3 linked regions of the Homo sapiens genome follow. The protein of the gene in region 2 interacts with the protein of the main gene of each other region in a pairwise test. Each region holds a gene or a part of one and is shown on either strand. Other genes may lie near its edges.

Region 1 (4,304 bases), on a different chromosome or scaffold from region 2:
ATGCTGCTGGTCCAGGAACCATGCCTGAGAACTGCTGCTCTTGGTTGATTAATACCCATTTCAGGGAGTAACTTTCCAAGCGTGAATGCAAAGGCAAAGACTGCACAGGAGAAAATTGATTTGACTACATAAAAAATTTAAGAAATTCAGTCAGGTGTGGTCGCTCATGCCTGTAATATGAATGCTTTGGGAAGTCAAGGCAGGAGGATCGCTGAAGGCCAGAAGTTCAAGACCAGCCTGGGCAACATACTGAGCCTCAGTCTCTACAAAAAAAAAGTCTTTAAAAATTAGCTGGGCATGGCAGCATGAGCCTGTAGTCCCAGCTCCTCAGAAGGCTGAGGCAGGAGGATCACTTGAGTCCAGGAGGTTGAGGCTGCAGCGAGCTGTGACTGTGTCACTGCACCTCAGCCCTGGATAAGAAGAGCAAGACCCAGTATAAAAAAAAAAAAAGAAAGAAAACTTGGAAAAAAAAAAAAAACATTTTCAACATTTTCAACATACAACCAATGCGTTGATACCCTTAATTAGTTGAGGAAAAAAAACTTTCACAAGTTAGGCAAAAAGCCTTTTAACAAATAATAGGCACTCCCACCTATCCAACTGCTAGACAGCCCCGTCTTCCTGGGGCTGCCTATGGTGGCCTGGGAGACTTCTCTCAAGCAAGCTTTGGCCTATTTGCTCTCAATATCAGTTTTGCACCAAAAGTTCACCAGGTTTGCTCAAAAAACACACATGTCATTTGAACTTGTTACTGTAACTACATTACCAGCAAGCTACTATTACACAAACTGATAACATGGGAGGTGAAAAATAGTGTCAGTGGTATCTATGAAAATGTGGTCGAATGCTTTGGAGAGCCTCAAAGACAAGCAGCTAAAAAAAAAGTTTTGGTTCAATCAACTACAGTGAAAATGCTAGAAAAATACCATAAAACTCCCAAATGATGTAGCAATCAGATTCTTTGAAAATACTGTGTTTGCTCAACCTTAAAGTTGTAGGGTCCAGCCCTACTGGGCTTAGCGGGTGTTCTCCCCGTGTGCAGAGACGAGGGATTGTAATAAATAAAGACACAAGACAAAGAGATAAGGAGAAAACAGCTGGGCCCAGGGTGGGGGCCACTACCACCAAGATGTGGAGACCGGTAGTGGCCCCGAACGGCTGGGCACGCTGATATTTATCGCATACAAGACAAGGGGGCAGGGTAAGGAGGGTGAATCTTCTAAGTGATTGACAAGGTGAAGCAAGTCACGTGATTACAGGATAGAGGGCCCTTCCCTTTTAGGTAGCCGAAGCAGAGAGAGAAGGCAGCATACGTCAGCATTTTCTTTTCTGCCCTTAAAAGAAAGATCAAAGACTTTAAAACTTTCACCATTTCTTCTACCACTATCTACTACGTACTTCAAAGAGGAACCAGGAGTACGGGAGGAGCATGAAAGCGGACAACGTACGTGACCATTGAAACACAGCACCACAGGGAGGGGTTTAGGCCTCCGGATGACTGTGGGCAGGCCTGGATAATACCCAGCCTTCCACAAGAAGCTGGTGGAGCAGAGTGTTCCCTGACTCCTCCAAGGAAAGGAGACTCCCTTTCGCGGTCTGCTAAGTAACGGGTGTCTTCCCAGACACTGGCGTTACCGCTTGACCAAGGAGCCCTCAAGCAGCCCTTATGCGGGTGTGACAGAAGGCTCACCTCTTGCCTTCTAGGTCACTTCTCACAATGTCCCTTTAGCACCTGAGCCTATACATGCCAGTTATTCCTAGGTTATGTTAGTAATGCCACAAAGAGTAATATTAAAAGCTAATGATTAATAGTGTTTATAGTAATGATTGATAATTGTCCATGATCATCTCCATATCTAACCTGTATTATGACTATTCTTATTCTAACTACTTTCTTTATTATACTGAAACAGTTTGTGCCTTCAGTCTCTTGCCTCGGCACCTAGGTACTCTTTCGCCCACATAAAATGAAAGTAGAAATTGTAGATGTTATGTTACAGGCATGCTTAGGGGAAGGAAGACCACACTGGATCCATGCAAGTGGACTCACACTCAGAGGAGGGCTGGCCCGACCCCTAAATGTTGGTGTACTTGAATCAAATACTGAAACGTTTATGTTACATTCATAACTTTAAAAAAAAAAAAAATTCCTGCTCAAATCAACTTCTATTAACCAACCAATCCTAATCCTGTCAAAGACTATTCAAGCTTCTAATTTAAATGTTGACAGTTGTGAAACATTAATTCTCCTCTTAACTACGGTGGTCAAGAGTACAGTCCCTGGAGCAGGTGCTGGGCTCAAAGCCTGGCTGTGCTACTTCTTTGCTGTGGGATCCTTAACAAGTCACTTACCCCCTCAAGTCTGTGTCACTGGCAGTAAGCTAGGGATAATAACAATACTACCTCTCAGGGCACTGTGGGGATCCAATGACCTAATGCTACAGATACAAGATGATTAGAATCAGGCCTGGCTCATGCTATATGTTGGACAGGTGGTTACTATTGCTGCGTGATACCGGAATTTATCCTAAAGACAGAATCAGAGAGGTGAAAAAGTCTTACAGATAAGGATGCTCAATACATTATTTATAATTATAGGTTCTCTATAACAGGAATTTAGCATTAATGTCCAATAGGCAATTTGATAAATTATAGTATATCTGTACAAAATAATAACTCTAGAGCTGCTAAATAGCATCTTTTTGAAAAATAGATATGGATACAAGAAAATGCTCATAATATATTACATGGAAAAAGCAGGTTACTAAACAGTCCACACAGTGCATTCCCTCTTTTTTTTTTTTTTTTTTTTTTGAGAAGGAGTCTCATTCTGTCACCCAGGCTGGAGTGCAGTGGCGCGATCTCAGCTCACTGCAACTTCCGCCTCCTGGGTTCAAGTGATTCTCCCGCCTTACCCTCCCGAGTAGCAGGGACCACAGGCACGTGCCACCACACCCAGCTCATTTTTATATTTTTAGTAGAGACGGAGTTTCACCATGTTGGCCAGAATGGTCTCGATCTCTTGACCTCAGGATCCACCCACTTCGACCTCCCAAAGTGCTGGGATTACAGGCATGAGCCACCATGCCTGGCCTCCCTACTTTTTTTTTTTAAGGATGCGTGTGCGGGGAAAATAGAAGAATAAATCTAGCGATGTTAAAAGTTCCAGCGATGTTAAAAGTAGTCACTTCTGCTAAGATTACAGATACACACTGTTATACTTTGTATTTTTCTACAGTTACTATGTATTACTTTTATAATTAAAAATTCCTATTAAAAAGCAAAACAGCTGAGAGTGGTTTCTTTGCAGACACTTACTCAACAAAAAACACTTGTCCGTTCTCATCAGTTTCTTGTTCCCATCCGTATGGCAAATCTGAAACACAAGAAAGACAGGTCTACAGGTGCCAGGGAGAAGTAAAGACCATCCCTGGGTCAGGAAGGGAAGGAGCCCTCCCAGCCCCGCCCCCAAGCCTGTCCCTCCCACCCAGCAGTTGTCACATCAACTGGCTTTCGTCACATGTTCCAACTGCGACAGCTGCAGAAGGCCCCTGATCCCACCCTGGGCTCCACATTTTTGCCTCTTGTTTTGAAGAAAACCTATTTTATTCCTGATCGCTCTATAAACCATACTGGTTGTGCCAATCCATGGGAATTCTCCCTTGAATGAGCTCAAAGAACATATGTATATGCAGGGCAGGCACCCAACGTCATTCATACGCTGACCTCATATGACATTAGAGGGCACGGCCATTTTTTTTCATGTGCACATGTTGATTCTTCAGCTGGATCCTAAACCTCTTAAGGGCAGGAACCTTCTCATATTTTTTTTTGAGATGGGGTCTCACTATGTTGCCTAGGCTCACCTCGAATTCCCAGGCACAAGTGATCCTCCCACCTCTGCCTCCCAAAGGGCTGGGATCACAAGCACAAGCCACCGTGCCTGTCCCTTTCTTATACTTCTATTCCGTGGATCATACATTATCTCAGAATCACCTAGAAGTCATGGTAATCTTTACGAAATTTCCAAATACTTATATATTTAATTCCATAGTATAGCCAAGAACAATTTTATAAACACTGCAACGATAGGAAAACATCATAAACTGTGAATCAAAGGCCTCAATTATTTTCTGGTTTTTGTTGTTGTTGTTGTCGCTATTTTTCAGACAGCATCTCACTCTGTCACCGAGGCTGGAGCGCAGTGGTGTGATCTTGGCTCACTGCAACCTCCAGCTCCTGGGTTTGAGCACTTCTCGTGCCTCAGCCTCCAAAGTAGCTGGAATTACAGGCGCATGCAACCA
Region 2 (5,001 bases):
AGGGGAAGGAGTCTGATGGGGGTGGGTGAGGAGAGAATGGATGTTTAACAGTGGAGGGAAGAAAAAGAAAACCTATTGCTGTGAAAAGGAGGAGCAGAGTTACAATTAGTGGTTGGAAAGAGTGTCTTGAAAGTTTCTTTTTTCTTTTTTTTTTTTTTTTGAGACATGGTCTTGCTCTGTTGCCCAGGCTGTAGTGCAGTGGCTCAATCACAGCTTACTGCAGCCTGGACTTCCCAAGCTCAAGTGATCCTCTCACCTTAGCCACCTGAGTAGTTGGGACTACAGGCGTGTCCCACCATGCCTGGCTAATTTTTTGTTTTTTGTAGAGACAGGGTCTCACTATGTTGCCCAGGCTGGTCTTGAATTCCTAGGCTCAGGCGATCCTCTTGCTTCGGCCTCCCAAAGTGCTAGGATTATAGGTGTGAGCCACCATACCCAGTCCTGAAAGAGTTTTCTTAAATATGAGAGACACTAGAACAAATTTCACTGGTGACAGAGAATGATCAAGAAAACAAGGGGAAAACTGAAATTTATTGAAGGCTTACATACTGTTAAGAGCTTTACAAACATTCTACCTTCACAGTCTTTAATGGAGCAGGCAATTGGGGTTACATAGCTTGCCCAAGGTCATGCAGCTAGAGGTGGCAGAGCTGAGAGGCCACCTAGATTTTTTGGACTCTTCGTGCCTGCCTTACCACCCCATTGCATAGGCACACGTCACCCTGTACTTAAACACCTGGGCCATGCCTTTGCCCTGACCATAGTGCCCTTGCAAATCAGAAAGAGCCACTCTCATTCTGAGGGGGACAAGAATTTGTTTTCCTCCTCCAGTGCTATAAGAAGGGGCATCTCCCCCACAGTCTAAATACCCATGCAGCACAGGACAGAAGCTCTCCCAGTCCAGAGCAGCAGAGGCAAGCAGCAAGAGACCCCAGAGGTAGGAGGGAAAGGGACACTTTGGGGGGTATACAGCAGGTTTCTTTTTGTGCCAGCCAGTGCAAGAGGATGCTGGGGGCTGCTGGTCCCAACCAGCTGGTGCCTGTGGCTGGATGTGTTCAGTGTGACAAGAAGCCTAGGTCAGAGCCCAGTCTCCCGGCTGCCCCCGTTGAGGCTGAGGCTGTGGGGGCGGGTACCACGCTCCAGCCTGCGGCCAGACAGGAGACGCCGCAGGGAAGAGCTAGAGCTCAGATCTCCGCAGCTGCGAAGGTGGAGGCTCTCTCGGCCAGGCCGGCCCCACAGGCTCCGGGGCACCTGGACAGGGACACAAGAAAGGGCATCATCAATAAGGCTCAATCTGAAGCTCCACGCTTTCCCAAACATCTTTCCTGGCTCCCCGAATTCCTACCTGCTTATGTCCATGAGCTCCAGTCCCACTGGGGTCTGGGGCTTTCCTGGATATCTGGAGGAAACGAGTGACCAGGCCCCGACCTGGCCAGCTGCCCTTTAGGTCCCCCAGGGAGTGGGCAGGTGCAGGGCCCGAGGGCAGGGGAACTTTTTGGAAGGTGGGCACAGGGCGCCGTTTCTCGGCTGACCGGGCACGTAGCAACTTGGGGGAAGGGCAGCGGGCTAGGCGGAAGAGGCAGGCTTCAGAGCAGAGCCCTGCAGAGAGACAGAGATAAGAGAATGGTATTGTAGGGTGGAGAGGGGGCTGGGCAGCCATGCCCAATCCCCATCCCTGGGGCGCAAACCACATGCCTGACCTGTATCTGCAGAGGAAACAGAAGCAGCTTCTTCCTCAAGCACTTTGGTATAAAGGTCCCTGAAGTCAGCTGGGGAGAAGAGAGAAAGGGAGACAGGGAGTGAGTGGAAGTGTTCTGTGGACACGCCCACCCTCCTGTGGGAACTCAAGCCCAGAGGAGCTTTCACAGCTCCCACGCTCCATCCCCAATCAAAGGGCCAGCATCTCTGTCCATATTAGCCAGCAACTAGATGGTACAATCCACCACAACAAGGACTGCAGTGGTGTTGTTCAGCACCTGGCGCACAGTGCTGAGCGTTCCCCAGTACTATCTCCTTTCTTATTTTTTTGAGATGGAGTCTCACTGTGTTGCCCAGGCCGGAGTGCAGTGGTACGATCTCAGCTCACTGCAACCTCCGCCTCCCAGGTTCAAGCGATTCTCCTGCCTCAGCCTCCCTAGTAGCTGGGATTACAGGCGTCCACCACCAGGCCCAGCTAATTTTTCAATTTTTAGTAGAGATGGGGGTTTCACCATGTTGGCTAGGCTGGTCTTGAACTCCTGACCTCAGGTGATCCACCTGCCTTGGCCTCCCAAAGTGCTGGGATTATAGGTGTGAACAGCCTTGCCCGGCCACTGTCTCCTTTCTCAGCATCTTCGAGTACAATGCCTATGGCTGAAGTACTGTTATTATACATGTTTTTTGTTTGTTTGTTTGTGTTTTTGAGATGGAGTGTGTCTCTGTCACCCAGGCTGGAGTGCAGTGGCATGATCTTGGCTCACGGCAACCCCTGCTTTCCAGGTTCAAGCGATTCTCCTGCCTTAGCCTCTCTGTTAGTAGCTGGAATTACAGGCGCGCTCCACCACACCTGGCTAATTTTTGTATTTTTAGTAGAGATAGGGTTTCACCATGTTAGCCAGGCTGGTCTCGAACTCCCGACCTCAGGTGATCCACCCACCTCAGCTTCCCACAGTGCTGGGATTACAGGTGCAAGCCACCGTGCCCGGCCTGAAGTACTATTATTATACATGTTTAACAAGTGACAGCTGAAGCTTGGGGAGGACAGATAAGTGGACCAAGCTGAGAGCTGTGGAACTGGTTTCAAAAAATAAATCCTTTTGGGAGGCCGAGGCGGGTGGATCACTTGAGGTCAGGAGTTCAAGACCAGCCTGGCCAAAAGGGTGAAACCCTGTCTCTACTAAAAAATACAAAAATTGCCCGGGCACGGTGACTCATGCCTGTAATCCCAGCACTTTGGGAGGCCGAGGCGGGCAGATCACGAGGTCAGGAGATTGAGACCATCCTGGATAACACGGTGAAACCCCATCTCTACTAAAAATACAAAAAAATAGCCGGGCGTGGTGGCAGGCATCTGTAGTCCCAGCTACTCACTACTCGGGAGGCTGAGGAAGGAGAATGGCGTGAACCCGGGAGGCGGAGCTTGCAGTGAGCCCAGATCGCGCGGCTGCACTCCAGCCTGGGTGACAGAGCGAGACACCGTCTCAAAAAAAAAAAAAAAAAAAAATATTAGCCGGTCATGGTGGCGCACACCTGTAGTCCCAGCTACTCGGCAGGCTGAAGCAGGAGAGAGTCACTTGAACCCGGGAAACGGGTTGCAGTGAGCCAAGATCATGCCACTGCACTCCAGCCTGGGCGACAGAGCCAGAGACTCCGTCTCAAAAAAAAAAAAAAATTCTCCTTTTTTAGCTGCTAAGCTATGGATGTTCTGTCCCTAGGAGGTGAGTACCTGAGAAGTGTCTACCAGAGGAGTGAACTCACCCTTTCTTCCTCCTCAGGGACCTCAACTGTGCCCCAATCCTGGTGGGCATCACTGGCCACCTAACTCCCAGTGCCTACCCTCTCCTGAGCCTGGGCAGTCGGGGAGGGGGCTCACCAGTGTCACTGGAGGTCGTGATGCCTGGGTCGCTGTGGGACCGTGGCAGCAGCAGCGGTGGTGGGGATGCCGGATGAGGAGGCCGGTGCCCCGGTGGGGTGAGGGAACCTGAGCTATCGCTGAAGCGACGAGTCGGGGCTCGGGTGGGCGGGGCTGCGGCTGGGCGGCCCCCTCCCCGGGGGACCCGCCGCCTCAGCTCGGGGAAGCAGGGTCCCACCCAGGGCGGCCAGCCCTCCAACCGGTGGCAGCTGCGGGCAGCTGTGGGGGCACCCAGTGGGGGTGGAGCTTCAGGGGCAGAGCAGGAATAGGAGCGGGCAGCCCGTGGGGGGCGCCGTGGCAGGGGGCTTTCCTCGAAGGGGCCCCGCAGGCCACAGTCCAGGCTGAGGCAGTAGCCGGCACGGCTGCGCTGGATGGAGCGAAAGAGAACGTAGTCCACGGAGCGCACGGAGCCCTGCAGCTCCAGCAGGCACGAGTCCTCCGACGGGCTAGAGCCCCCAGGGAGGTCACCAATGGCTGACAGCACCAGAGACCCGCTGTCCATGGACACTGTGGGCGGCAGGGGGCGCTGTGTAGCACCAGCCTGGCCTGGCCTAGCCCTGCCCAGGCAGTTCCTCTTCTCCCAAGCCCAGCCTCTAGGGGCCACTGTGCCTCCAGCTTTATCTCAGAGGAGAAAAATAAGTCCAGGGTTCCAAGTTGCCACAGCCCTCCTATGTCCCCAAACCACCAACTCCGCCTTGTTTTCCCCTTCTATTGTCTCTACCCACCCCAGCTATCCCTGGCAGCCCCGCCCTTGTCCACCCCTCATTACGCCCTGCTCACCGTCTACAATGGAGGCCACTCGTTCACAGATGCACGAGCCATCGTGAAGCTGAGGGTCAAAGAGAGTGGCCTGCAGAAGACACAGGGTCAAGGGTTCAGCCCTACACACTGAACACCCCCATGTGCTAGACAGAGCTCTGGAGACTTAGATTCCAGACCAGCCTTGTCCCTTTGTACAAGTCACTTAATTGTGCAGCCTCAGCTTCCACGTCTGTATGGCAGAAATGATAGCTTCCAACCCACTCACCTCACCAGGCTCTAGGGAAGATCAAAGGCAACAGTGGGCATGCTGGTGCTGTAAAGACCTTGACCACTGTTACTATCTTTATCCAGAGGCTACAGCCTGTTCAGCTTTCCAGGCTACAACCCGGCTCCCCAGCCCGCCCCAAGCCGTGCTGTGCTCTCACCTGGCTGTCTCCTCGTAGTCCCATGACTGCCTCATAAGAAGGGGGGCAATCGGTAGGGTACAAGGGCACTGGGCTGTCCATGGAGCCATTGTACGTGATGCTGGCAGATGAGGAAGAGGGTCAATGTAGGAGAAATAATTCCCCCTCCACAAAGATCCCTCTCTCCAGCAATCCAGGCCCAGCCCCAGTCCCCTTCCTTAGCTC
Region 3 (4,383 bases), about 110 Mb from region 2:
GCCTGGAGTGCAGTGGCGCGATCTTGGCTCACTGCAACTTCTGCCTCCCGGGTTCAAGCAATTCTCCCGCCTAAGCCTCCTGAGTAGCTAGAACTACAGGTGCCCGCCACCATGCCCAGCTAATATTCTTATTTTTAGTAGAGACGGGGTTTCACCATGTTGGTCAGGCTGGTCTCGAACCCCTGACCTCGTGATCCACCCGCCTCGGCCTCCCAAAGTGCTGGGATTACAGGTGTGAGCCACCGCGCCCGGCCCAAAATATTTTTAAAATTAGCTGGGCATGGTGATGCATGCTGTAGTCCCAGCAACTTGGGGCCACGGTGAGAGGGTCAGTTGAGCCCAGGAAGTGGAGGCTGCAATGAGCTGTTTGCGCCACTGCATTCCAGCCTAGCCAACAAAGTAAGACCCTGTCCTCCTTGCCGCTCCCCACCCCCTCAAAACTAAAAGAAAATATCAAATTAAAAAAAAAAATTCTCAATTAAAAAAAAAAGACGGGCAGGTTTGCAGATCATAGAACTTTTATTTAGATGGAATCATTGCGAATTACATAGAAGCTACCAGCCTAAGCCAAACCCATGAGGTTCATGTGAACTTACAGTTACACAAATAAGAAACAAATGGTACATCCAAAACCATAAGGAAATATTCTGATGCCCAGATGATGAAGACTGGGGTGAATTAAGTCCACACATTTATTTCAAGTTGTTAAAGAGTTTGTGGGCCACCTAGATGGGGGAAAGAAAAGGAGGTAATCAATTGGCAGCTTTAATGTCATGGCTTACAAGGTCCTTCAAGACCTGAAACAGTACTGCCCCTCTTCTCACCACTCCCCTTCTCACATAGGCAAGCAGCACTTGAGTCCTAGTGAACTCCCCACTTTTTTCATCTTTTATTCTTCCTTTAGAATTTAGATCTGATAACTGTCATTTCCTGCAAGCCTTCTCTAAACAAGCCCCTATCCACACACAAATCTGTCCCTCCTATCTTTCCACAAAAACTTGTACCTCCCCATCAGTGACATTAACATTACATATTAATTCAACAGGACATCTCCTATATGCCAGGTAGTGTTCTAAGTGCTGAGTGAGTTATAACTGTAACAAAACATGCCTGCCACTTAAGAAACTTACAGGGTAATGAGTTAAAATGAACACATAAATAAGGTAACCTGTGATAATGGGAAATGCTAGGAGGAAAATAAATGGGAGGCGGGGCGGGGGGTTCAGTTAATATTACCCTGAGAAAGGTATACCTGAGAGACTTACCAAAGTTTAGCACTTGTTCTACTTCTGTTTCCTATGCTGGCTCATAAACTCAGTGAAGGAATGAACCATGTCTATCTTACTCCCAGATCCTAAACCAGTGCTTGGCTGACAAATATATGTAAATATTTTTAGAATGACCACACAGTGGGAGGGGGAAAATCAACAGTAGGGATGTTAATTCAGGGAACAGATCATGACTTGCCTATTTTGAACATTTCATACAAATCATATCATACGATATTTTTTACTTTGTGACTGGCTTTTTCCCCTTAGCATTTAGCATGTTTGCAAGGTTTATCCAGGTTGTAGCATGTTCAGTACTTATTTTGTTAAAAATTATGATAAAATACATCTAACATAAAATTTTCCACTTCAGTAATTTTTTTTTTCTATTTTAATCTTTTTTTTTTTTTTTTTTTTGAGGCAGTCTTGCTCTGTCCCCCAGGCTGGAGTGCAGTGGTACAATCTTGGCTCACTGCAACCTCCGCCTCCCGGGTTCAAGTGATTCTCCTGCCTCAGACTCCTGAGTAGCTGGGATTACAAGTGTGCGCCACCACACTCAGCTAATTTTTTTTTTTGAGACAGAGTTTCACTCTTGTTGCCCAGGCTGGAGTGCAATGGCTCACCGCAACCTCTGCCTCCCAGGTTCAAGCGATTCTCCTGCCTCAGCCTCCCTAGTAGCTGGGATTATAGGCATGTGCCACCACGCCCGGCTAATTTTGTATTTTTAGTAGAGACGGTGTTTCTCCATGTTGGTCAGGCTGGTCTCGAACTCCCGACCTCAGGTGATCCACGTGCCTCAGCCTCTGAAAGTGCTGGGATTACAGGCGTGAGCCACCGCACCTGGCCTACACTCAGCTAATTTTTTATTTTAGTAGAGACAAGGTTTCACCATGTTGTCCGAGGTGGTCTCAAACTCCTGACCTCAAGTGACATGCCTGCCTTGGCCTCCCAAAGTGTAGGAGGTGTGAACCACCGCACAAGGCCCCACTTTAATCATTTTTAACTGTACATTTCTGTGGCAGTTAAGTGCATTCCCATTGTTCTACAACCATACAGTCCCCTACAATCTCTAGAACGTCCAATCTTGGGACCTTTTTCATCTTACTAAATCAAAACTATATCCATTAAACAGTAACTCTCCATTTCCTTTCTCCCCTCAGCTCCTGGTTACTACCATTCTACTTTCTGTCTCTATGAATGTGACTGCTATTCTAGGTACCTCACCAAAGTGGAACAATACAATGTTTGTCTTCCTTGACACTTAGTTTAATGTCTCCAAGGTTCATCAATGTTGCAGCACGTGTCAGAGTTTCCCTCCTTTTTTTTTTTTTTTTTGAGACGGAGTTTTGCTCTTGTTGCCCAGGGTGGAGTGCAATGGCGCAACTTTGGCTCACCGCAGCCTCCACCTCCGGGGTTCAAGCAATTCTCCTGTCTCAGCCTCCCGAGTAGCTGGGATTACAGGCGCATATACCACCATGCGCAGCCAATTTTTGTGTTTTTAGTAGAGACGGGGTTTCATCATATTGGTCAAGCTGGTCTCGAACTCCGGACAGCAGGTGATCCACTTGCCTCGGCCTCCCAAAAAGCTGGGATTACAGGCATGAGCTGCTATGCCCAGCCCCTTCTCTTTTTTTTTTTTTTTTTGAGACGGAGTCTTGCTCTGTACCCAGGCTGAAGTGCAGTGGCGTGATCTCAGCTCACTGCAAGCTCCGCCTCCCGGGTTCATGCCAATCTCCTGCCTCAGCCTCCCAAGTAGCTGGTTCTACAAGCACCCGCCACCATGCCCGGCTAATCTTTTGTATTTTGAGACAGGGTTTTACCGTGTTAGCCAGGATAGTCTCAATCTCCTGACCTTGTGATCCGCCTGCCTTGGCCTCCCAAAGTGTTGGGATTACAGGCATGAGCCACCGTGCCCCGGCCCCCTTCTCTTTTAAGGCTGAATAATATCCCATTGTATATACAAAGCACATTTTAAAAAAATCTTTGCATCTATGGATGGAAAATTGGGTTGTTTCTACCTTTTGGCTATTGTGAATATGAATGTGGAAATATCTGTTTAAGCCTACTCTCAATACTTCTGGGTATATACCTAGAAGTGAAATTGCTAGATCATATAGTACATAATTCTATGTTTAATTTTTGAGAAAAGAACTTGTTTTTTTTTTTTTGAGACAGGGTCTCAGTCTGTCACCCAGGCTGGAGTGCAGTGGCGTGATCATGGCTCACTGAAGCCTTGACTTCCCCAGGCTCAGGTGATCCTCCCACCTCAGCCTCCCAAGTAGCTAGGACTACAGGTGTGAGCCAGCTTGCCTGGTTATCTATATCTATCTATCTATCTATCTATCTATCTATCTATCTATCTATCTGTCTATATTTTTTTGAGATGAAGTCTCGCTCTGTCGCCCAGGCTGGAGTGCAGTGGCACAATCTCAGCTCACTGCAAGCTCCGCCTCCCGGGTTCACGCCATTCTCCAGCCTCAGCCTCCCAAGTAGCTGGGACTACAGGCGCCCGCCACCACGCCCGGCTAATTTTTTTGTATTTTTAGTAGAGATGGGGTTTCACCATATTGGCCAGGCTGGTCTCGATCTCCTGACCTCATGATCCACCCGCCTCCGCCTCCCAAAGGGCTGGGATTACAGGCGTGAGCCACCGCGCCCGGCTTTTATATATATATTTTTTGTAAAGACAGGGTTTTACCATGTTGCCCAGGCTGGTCTCAAATTCCTGGGCTCAGGTGATCTGCCTGCCTTGACCTCGCAAAGTTCTGCGATTACAAGCATGAGCCACAGTGCCCAGCCTAGCTGATGGACACTTATGTTGTTTCCACTTTTTGGGTAGTATAAATAATGCTTCTATGAACATTTGTGTACAAGTTTTTATGTGAACATATGTTTTCATTTCTCTTGGGTATATATCTTCGAGTGTAATTGCTGTGTCATATATTAACTGTATATTTAGCCTTTTGAGGAACTGCCAGATGTTTTCCACAGTGGCTGTACCAATTTACACTTTTACTGACAGCGTATGAGGTTTCCAACTTTTCCACATTGTCGTCAACACTCGTTATCTTCTTTATTATAGCCATCCTAGTGGGCAGTTGGTATAAAGTGTTAT

The links. The genes of interacting proteins can lie anywhere in the genome.
Region 1: the proteins of ENTREP3 (region 2) and WWOX interact in binary tests that used the Homo sapiens proteins (3 or more experiments, as listed by UniProt).
Region 3: the proteins of ENTREP3 (region 2) and UQCRH interact in a two-hybrid assay, tested with the Homo sapiens proteins (one large-scale study listed by BioGRID).

Annotation. Positions count from the first base shown.
Region 1 is NC_000016.10:78,108,850-78,113,153, reverse strand, and holds part of WWOX (WW domain-containing oxidoreductase), read right to left. Parts: intron 3,377-4,304; coding exon 3,319-3,376; intron 1-3,318. UniProt on the Homo sapiens protein: Putative oxidoreductase. Acts as a tumor suppressor and plays a role in apoptosis. Required for normal bone development. May function synergistically with p53/TP53 to control genotoxic stress-induced cell death.
Region 2 is NC_000001.11:155,246,705-155,251,705, forward strand, and holds the end of ENTREP3 (protein ENTREP3), read right to left. Parts: intron 4,898-5,001; coding exon 4,798-4,897; intron 4,461-4,797; coding exon 4,391-4,460; intron 4,118-4,390; coding exon 3,572-4,117; intron 1,770-3,571; coding exon 1,701-1,769; intron 1,600-1,700; coding exon 1,346-1,599; intron 1,252-1,345; coding exon 1,078-1,251; 3' UTR 501-1,077; downstream 1-500.
Region 3 is NC_000001.11:46,312,894-46,317,276, reverse strand, and holds the end of UQCRH (cytochrome b-c1 complex subunit 6, mitochondrial isoform 1 precursor), read right to left. Parts: intron 726-4,383; coding exon 693-725; 3' UTR 501-692; downstream 1-500. UniProt on the Homo sapiens protein: Component of the ubiquinol-cytochrome c oxidoreductase, a multisubunit transmembrane complex that is part of the mitochondrial electron transport chain which drives oxidative phosphorylation.